Linked DNA regions of Homo sapiens: region 2 is linked to region 1. The links come from fine-mapping of genetic effects on gene expression. A gene starts in region 1. The other region holds a variant in brackets. All regions are shown on one strand. Distances are from middle to middle.

Region 1 (4,380 bases):
GCTTTGCTCTGGGCAGCTCTCTCCCTGCCAGTGTCCTGTGCACTCCAGCTGCCGTGGTCTCCCCGGCCTCTCATCTGAGCTCTTCCTGAGTTCTCCTTCCTGGCCCCTTGTCCTGGAAACCCTCAGGCGGTGACCTGGGCAGTTTAGGGCTGTTTCCTGTCTGCCATGGACTGAACGTTTGTGTCTTCCCCACCCTCCGGTTCCTGTGTTGAAATCCTGGTGCCCAAGGTGACGATATTAGGAGGTGGGGACTTGGGGAGGTGGCAGAGCCCTCAAGAATGGGGTTAGTGTCCTTACAGGAGAGATCCCAGAGCCGGGCGCGGTGGCTCACGCCTGTAATCCCAGCACTTTGGGAGGCCGAGGCAGGTGGATCACCTGAGTTCAGGAGTTCGAGATGAGCCTGGCCAGCATGGAGAAACCCTGTCTCTACTAAAAATATGAAAATTAGCTGGGCATGGTGGTGGGCGCCTGTAATCTCGGCTACTCGGGAGGCTGAGGCGGAGAATCACTCGAACCTGGGAAGTGAGCTTGCAGTGAACCGAGATTGTGCTACTGCACTCCAGCCTGGGTGACAGAGTGAGACCCTGTCTCGAAAAAAAAAAAAAAGAGACCTCAGAGAGCTCTCCCACCCCTTCTACCAGAGGCGAAGGGGACCCAGTGGGAAGGTGCCGTCCGTGAACCAGGGAGTGGCCTCACCAGACATCGAATCTGCCAGAGTGTGGATCTTGAACGTCCCGTCCTCTGCAGCCGTGGAGATGCGTGTCTGTTGCTTTTATGCCGCTCAGGCCATGGCGTTTCCGGATAGCAGCCAGGTTGGAGGGACCCGCTGTCTCTCTGGGACCACTCTCTTCGTCGCCTGATGTCCACCGTCTTGACAGATGTTGTTTCCCATATTTCCTGGAGTTTTTTAGTTGCTAAATCCTGGCCTCTGCTACTCTCTTTGCTAAAAATGCTAGTCCTTGATGAAATGGAATCTTGATACTTTAATACAGAGTGGAACATAGTCACTAAATAAAACCTGGAAAAATGTAGAAGAGTAGCAGGAAGAGAACACACCCCAGCCCCGCGGTCCACCCACCCGCAGTCCCTATCGCCACCTCCTGGCTCTGGTTTCCCTGCTCGTGGGGCTGGGCAGCATTGCTGCAACTCTTGATTCGCTTTCCTGGGGCCACCATAACCAAGCAGCACAACCCGGGAGATGGCTCAGAGTCTCTCTGCGTCCTGGGAGCCTGAGATCCAGGAGTGGGTGGGTTGGAGAATGGTTCTCCCTGGGTCACTCTGGAGGACCTCTTAAGGTGGACTTCTTAAGGGACCCCCGGCTCCCACCTTGCCAAAGAGCCTCCGAGCCACACCTGCCTCCCGCAGGCCTCCAGTTGGTGCCCACATGCAGCCCCCGCCGTGGGGTCACCCTGGGGTAAGGGTCTCTCCTCCCCTGCTAACCTTCTGCTGGGTCTTGGCATCCCTGGGATGAACCCTCCTGGCCTGGACCTTGCCGGCCCACATCAACCCCCAGCCCTCTGCTCCTTGGCCTCACCCACAGCCTGCAGAATGTAGGTGAGTTTCCTGATGATAATATAATAATAGCAATGATGATGATGATGATGATGATGGCAATAACAATGATGACAGTCAACACTGCCGCGTGCCGGGCTCTGGCCCTTTGCATGTCTGGGCCGGCTGTACAAGGCACTGCTGGGGCTCCCGGGCTGGGAGCCAGGGACAGGCACCGTCACAGCAGCCAAGGGGCCCCCCTACCACCCCAGCACCTGCTGGCCCTGAACCAGCTGCTCCTTGAGAGCTTTGACAGACTCTTCCGCTTGGCAGCATTTTAATCTGCTGGTGCAAGAGCCTTGTCGCTTCCTCAAAGCCTGTGCCCATGGCCGTGGGCAGCTGCCTGTCCCTGTATAGGCAGAGCTGCGTCATGCCCTGTGGCCCCAGGTCTGGCTCTGGGGTTCTGGCTGGGCGGGGCCTGGAACCTTCTGGGAGTCACCATTGACTGGCTGCAGCCACCGGCTTCCCAGCAAGGATGTCCTCTTCTGTAGGAAAATGGGGACGTCGGGAGCATTCTCTGGACAGCAGGAGATGCATGTCGACAGGCTGGCCCTGCCTCTTCCCACCCCAGAGTGGTGAGTGGGGATTCTGGGGACTTCCCTGGCCCCCATGGGCCTCGCGTGTCCTGGTGCCCATGTGTCTCCAGTCCCAGGGTCGGCCACGGTGTGGACCCCTCCACTTTCCTCCAGGCCTGAGGTGGGGCCCGGGCGGCCTGTCAAAGAAGAGCCCAGCCCAGACCCTCCCCAGATCCCTGGGGGAAGGAGGCCACCAGGCACCCTGCCTTCCTGCTGCCTGTCAGGGTGAATCTCAGGGGACCCTGGTGCAGGAGGGGCTGGCTCTGAGCTGGACAGGCCTCTGGGGTTGCCCTGGTGGCCTTCCCTCTCTCTGGGTCAGACGTGCCCAGGCAGGGAGGGTCCAGGCCATGACAGAGCCGGGCCAGCTGGGGACAGGGCATCCCCCAGTGCAATCCTTGTAGCGAACGGGTCCTAGAGTGCAGCTGGCGGGACACTCCCGCCATCACTGGATTTACTGCAGGTGGAGACGGGTTCTGTACCCACGTAGATGAGGAAACAGGCACAGAGAGGGGGCAGCCTGCCCAAGGTCACCGGGGAGGGAGTGGAGAGGCTGGATGCCCTTGGGCCCAGACTGCAGCCTCCCCTCCCCGATGTGCTGCGGCCCCAGTGTCCTGGGCCCCATGTGGCGCCTGAGCCCACAGGTGTCACCAAAGGTCTGAGTTGCGGGGACAAAGGCGGGGACAGGCCCGAGGTGCGGGGACAAGGGCGGGGATGGGCCTGAGGTGCAGGGACAGAGGCGGGGACAGGCAACCCCTGCGGTTCGAGGGGTAGGTGGCCACACGTCAGTCCCTGGGAGGGCCAGGCAGGAGGTGGGCCCAGCGGGGCTGGGAAATGAGGGGCCAGTGCCCCCACGCTCACTGCAGGGGATGTGAGAGGGCGAGTGGTCGCTCAGCCACACCCACACCCGTGTGTACAGGACCCACGCCCGCCCGCCTTGCTGTCCCGCCCGTGCACGGCTCACACAGCTTCTCCCATTATTCAGGCGCTGCCGGGCCCTGCAGGACTCAGATCGTCCCTGTGCCACTTGGCAGGGTCACCCTCACGCCTGCCCGGTGGCCCCACCTGCCCCACCTGCCCAGCTTCTCTCCCTTCTCAGTGCTGTCTGTCCCAGAGCCTCCCATCAATGGGGCCAGAGGGCTCTGGCCCGGCTGTGGGCTGACTGTTCTCCCCAAGATGCCTGAGAGCCACCCGGGCACCGGACTTGCCAACATGCAGGCACACGCAGGCACACACCTGGGCCACACGGCCCTGAGCACACGCCTTGCCCAGCCCTCCTCCGGGCTGTGGTGCGGGTGCCAGGTGCCACCTGCTGGCGGGCTACAGCATCACGGCTCTCGCCCTCCGGAACCTTCCATGGTGCCACACCAGCCTCTGGTCTGGCTGCAGACGGCTTGGGCTGGGCAGGGAAGCTTCCACTGTCGGGGAACCTGGGACCACAGTCTTTGCTCCAAGCGCCCTGGGCGGGTAGAGGCCAGGTCCGGTATGAGGAGCCCTGGTTCCCTGAGGTAGACAGAGCCAGGCAGACGTTGAGGAGACATGGGGGCTGTAGCCCTGGCCCCACTGCCCGACTCTCTCTCTGCATTTCGGGAGCTGGCAAGATCCAAGGGGGTCCCCAAGGCCCTGAGGCTGCACTGAGCACCCCTTTCCTGCTCATTTTCAGATGCAGCGGTGTCCTGGACCCCTGGGGAGAGGTGACCCCCCCAGCAGGAAGCTGGGCCTGGTTTCTGTCCCTCTGCAGCCACAAGGCCTGGCTAGGATGCTGGGAGCACCACACCCTGGAGACTCAGCTCACCAAGGACTCAGGGGCGGGGGCTCCCCTGGCACCTGGGAAGCTGGGCCCCCGGCCCCCTGGACTCCCACCCAGACACCATCTCAACCCAGGTCTGTCTGCTCTCCCCGTCACTGCCCTGGGTTCTCCACTCCTGGACCCGACCCTGGTCCTGGGGCAGTGTCCCAGCTGCTGTGTCCCAGGCCCCCCATCCACTGCCCTTGGCCCACCTTCTATGTGGCCCATTAGAGGGGTGTGGGGGCTGCAACCTGCTTCTGCTGAACCCCTAGGCCTGCCAGGGGGCATCAGGATTCTGCACAGAGAGGCAGGGGACCCGGCCAGACATGCAGGTACCCACGTACCTAATTCTGGGCCTTGGGGCAAGGACTGCGTATTTATCCTGGCCCAGGCAAGTCTGGGGGTGTCTGAGGGGTGGTGAGACGTCTGGGCAGATTGTCCCTGCCCTGCTCTGCTCTGCCCCACCCT
Region 2 (4,380 bases), 130 kb before region 1:
GGGAGGCAGAGTGAGGCTCTTGTCTCAAACAACAGCAACAACAACAAATAGAAATAGGGTCTCTGCAGAGGTATCTAGGGTGAGGATCTTGGGATGAGATCATTCTGGATATAGGGTGGGCCCTAAATCCAATGACAGGGGTCCTTGTAAGAAGAGAAGGGAGGTCGGGCACAGTGGCTCATGCTAATCCCAGCACTTTGGGAGGCTGAGGCGGGTGGATCACTTGAGGCCAGGAGTTCAAGACCGGCCTGGCTAATATGGCAAAACCCCATCTCTACTAAAAATACAAAAATTATCTGGGTGTGGTGGCACACGCTTGTAGTCCCAGCTACTCAGGAGGCTGAGGCAGGAGAATCGCTTGAACCTAGGAGGCAGAGGTTGCAGTGAGCCAAGGTCTCGCCACTGCACTCCAGCCTGGGCAACAGAGTGAGACTCCGTCTCAAAAAAAAAAAAAAAAAAGGGAACAGAAGGGAGAGGCAGCACTGAGAGAGATACAAGGGGTGAACGTGGGGGTGGGGCCTCCAGAAGGAACGAACCCCACTGACACCTGCTTCTGCCTTTCGAACGGCGAGGCCAGAATGCGTTTCTGTTGAGTTGCAGCCTCTGGTTTGTGGTCATTTTTCAGAGAGTCCTAGGAAGCTCATATGGCCATTTGGAAAGCCTGCAGTGATAATTTTAGTCAGTATGCTTTATTTCCTTTTTTTTTTTTTGGAGTCTCGCTCTGTCGCCCAGGCTGGAATGCAGTGGCACCATCTTGGCTCACTGCAACCTCCACCTCCTGGGTTCAAGCAATTCTCCTGCCTAAGCCTCCCGAGTAGCTGGGATTACAGGCACCCGCCACCATGCCCGGCTAATTTTTGTATTTTTAGTAGAGATAAGGTTTCACCATGTTGGCCAGGCTGGTCTTGAACTCCTGACCTCAGGTGATCTGCCCGCCTCGGCCTCCCAAAGTGCTGGGATTACAGGTGTCAGCCACTGTGCCGTGCTTATTTTCTAACTTTCTTTTTCTCAGACCAACCTTAAAATTGACGAATATTCCACCAGTTCACCTGGCTGGGCCCACAGAGAAGCCTGGGCTGGAGGCCAGGTGGGTGGGTGCTGGCCCGCCCGGAAGGAAGTGCTTGCTGCAGAACCCCCTGGCCAGGGAGCCCCTCGGGTGCTGGGAAACTGACTGTGGGCAGGGCCGGTCTGGCCTCAGCTGGTCTGGCCAGTAGAGCCGGGGGGCATTGCTCCACGGGGGTCTGAGGGAGCCCAGAGGCTATAGACTCCTGCTCTGGGGCTAACAGGAGGCCAGGAGTAGCAGCATCTGTGGGTGGGGGAACAACAGGATTTTCATGGCACCTCCCCACCCCTCCCCCAGCTGGTGTCACCTGCTGTATGGCTCCTGTGTGGCTTTGGGCATTTGGGGAGGTGGGGGAGCATTTACTGATGACTGATGGTGCCTGTGGGAATGGGCTTGGCGGTACTGATGATGAGACACAGGACAGAATGGGGGACGTCCCGATATGCCCTGGAGCCCCAGAGGCTTTATGACGCCCCCCACGTTGTCCTTAGGGTGCACCTTGCACACTGAGGCCTGGTAATCATTAGGTGTTTGTTAGGATCTAGGTTTGTCTGAGTGTGGCAGAGCCCCCAGCCATGCTGTTCCTGACGGAGTGTTAGCCCTCAAACTGTGTTCTGAGGAGGGGGTGGAAAGGCAGGCAGGAATTCAACATCCTGCCCCAAATGGGCACACGTCACCTCTGTTACGGGGTGAATTTTATTTCCTAAAAACACATATATTAAGTCCTAACCCCAGTGCCCCAGGATGTGACCTAATTTGGAGGATTGTGGCAGATGTAATTAGTTCAGATGAGGTCAGTAAGGTGGGCCCTAATCCAATAGGACTGGTGTCCTTTTTAGAAGAGGAGATTATGGCCTTACACAGTGGCTTGCACCTGTAATCCCAGCACTTTGGGAGGCCGAGGCGGGCAGACCACTTGAGGCCAGGAGTTTGAGACCAGCCTGGAAAACACAGTGAAACCACAGCTCTACTAAAAGTTTAAAAAAAAAAATTAGCTGGATGTAGTGGCACATGCCTGTAATCCCAGCTACTCAGGAGACTGAGGCTGGAGAATCACTTGAACCCGGGAGGCGGAGGTTACAGTGAGCTGACATCATGCCATTGTCCTCCAGCCTGGGGGACAAGAGCAAAACTCCATCTCAAAAAAAAAAAAAAAAAAAAGAGGAGATGAGGACACAGAGGAGTACCTAGGGACAACCCTGTGCAGACCCAGGGAGAAGATGGCATCCATAAAGCCAAGGAGAGAGGCCTCAGGAAGAGCATGCCGGTGGACATCTTTTTTTTTTTTTTTTTTTTAGATGGAGTCTCGCTCTGTC[G/T]CCCAGGCTGGAGTACAGTGGTGCGATCTCGGCTCACTGCAAGCTCCGCCTCCTGGGTTCACGCCATTCTCCTGCCTCAGCCTCCCGAGTAGCTGGGACTACAGGCGCCCACCACCACGCCCGGCTAATTTTTTGTATTTTTAGTAGAGACGGGGTTTCACCATGTTAGCCAGGATGGTCTTGATCTCCTGACCTCGTGATCCGCCCTCCTCGGCCTCCCAAAGTCCTGGGATTACAGGTGTGAGCCACCGGGCCCGGCCCCGGTGGACATCTTGATCTTGGACTTCCAGCCTCCAGGACTATAGGAAGACAAATTTCTGTTGTTCCAACTGCCCAGGCTATGGTACATTGCAGGGCAGGCCCAGATACAATCTCCCTGCACGTTCTGCTATCACCAGGCAATGCCTAGCTGCATAGGAGGCTGGGAAATGTAGTCTTGATTCTGGGCGGCCACATGCCCACCAAGTCAGGAGATCAGCTACTGTAGAAGGAGGGGAGATTCAGCGGCAGGGCTGGACTCGCAGTCTCTGCCGTCGGCACACGTGCAGGTCTGCAGGGCACACAGTGTACATGCTGCTTCCTGCTCATTGGGTAGCCAGTGAACCATGTGACATCCGAGTCCCCGGGAATTAAACCAGCAGAGAACTCTGGCTCAGCTCTGCAGGGAGGTAATAAAGGTGTCCTACCATCCCTGCTAGGCCCGAAGCAATCAGCAGTGCTGACACTCTCTGTACATTTGGAGTGCCAGAGGCTGTGGGTTTTTTCCTTGTTTCTTTTTCTTTCTTTCTTTCTTTTTTTTTTTTTTTTTTGAGACAGACTCTCACTCATGTCACTCAGGCTGGAGTGCGGTGGTGTGATTTTGGCTCACTGCAACCTCCACCTCCAGGGTTCAAGCAATTCTCGTGCCTCAGCCTACCCAGTAGCTGGGATTACAAGTGCCCGCCACCATGCCTGGCTAATTTTCATATTTTTAGTAGACACGGGGTTTCACCATGCTGGCCAGGCTGGTCTCAAACTCCTGACCTCAAGTGATCCACCTGCCTTGGCCTCCCAAAGGGCTGGGATCACAGGGGTCAGCCACCATGCCTGGCCGGTTGTGGGTTTTTTCTTAGTTTACATTCTTTCACTCTTCCTTTTAATATTAGAATTCCCAGAGCTGGGCCGAGCACAGTGGTTCACACCTGTAATTCCAGCACTTTGGGAGGCCAAGGCGTGGGCCTGGGCTGATGGGATTTGCTGCCGTGGGAGAAATGGCCAGGACAGTGGCTTTCCTTGGCATTGTCAGTGAGTGAGGCCACAGAGGTTCATGACAGTCCCCCAGCCCCACTTTGCTGCCAGGCTGGCTGGGCAGGGGATCGGAATGGGCATGTGCTATAACACCGTGTGGTTGGCGTCTGACAGCATGGAAGTCCAGTGCGGGCTAGTCAGGCTGGTAAAATGGGTCACACCTCAGAACTGCCTCGTGTGCTCTTAAAAACCGCAGCACTCAGGCTATATACCCTGGCCTGTCCCATCAGACCCTCTGAGGGTGTCACTAGTCGTCAGCCGCGCCACTGGTCTACCCCTTGGGTTGGGAAGGGGGCTCCCAGGATTTCCACGTTGCCTTCCTATTACAGTAGGTAGCCAGTCAGACGTGAGCGGTGCGGGAGAGGGCTCCCCTGCTCCCCGTCCCCCAACCAGGAAAGTCAGTTGACCATCAGGTGATGGTCAGGGAGCTGTTTGTTTGTTGTTGTTGTTGTTTGAGTCTCGCTCTGTTGCCCAGGCTGGAGTGCAGTGGCGCAATCTTGGCTCACTGCAAGCTCCGCCTCCCGGGTTCACGCCATTCTCCTGCCTCAGCCTCCGGAGTAGCTGGGACTATAGGCTCCCGCCAGCACGCCCAGCTAATTTTTTGTATTTTTAGTAGAGACTGGGTTTCACCATGTTGGCCAGGGTGGTCTTGAACTCCTGACCTCGTGATCCACCTGCCTTGGCCTCCCAAAGTGCTGGGATTACAGGTGTGAG

Direction of the effects. Alleles are on the strand shown, and positions count from the first base shown. SD is a standard deviation of normalised expression in the study named.
As copies of T replace G in region 2, the expression in hippocampus of the gene that starts at base 2,044 in region 1 goes up (moderate effect, 0.46 SD a copy in GTEx).

Evidence for each region. PIP is the estimated chance that this variant, and not a neighbour inherited with it, causes the effect. A credible set is the group of variants that fine-mapping cannot tell apart.
Region 2: its variant is the best candidate, but not a certain one, in a credible set for the expression of LINC02688 in hippocampus (GTEx, PIP 0.67).

Annotation. Positions count from the first base shown.
Region 1 is chr11:1,047,837-1,052,216 of GRCh38, forward strand. LINC02688 (long intergenic non-protein coding RNA 2688) reads left to right here and starts at 2,044. Exons shown (of 4, transcript NR_160890.1): 1 at 2,044-2,126; 2 at 3,787-4,007. It overlaps LOC124902605, which reads left to right and starts at 1,856. Exons shown (of 4, transcript XM_047427955.1): 1 at 1,856-1,938; 2 at 2,043-2,126; 3 at 3,787-4,007.
Region 2 is chr11:916,458-920,837 of GRCh38, forward strand. No RefSeq gene overlaps it. Among named protein-coding and RNA genes, the nearest start is that of AP2A2, 7.2 kb to the right of the region's middle. RefSeq lists enhancers at 2,752-3,046, 3,726-4,225. The variant G/T (reference allele first, on the strand shown) is at 2,380.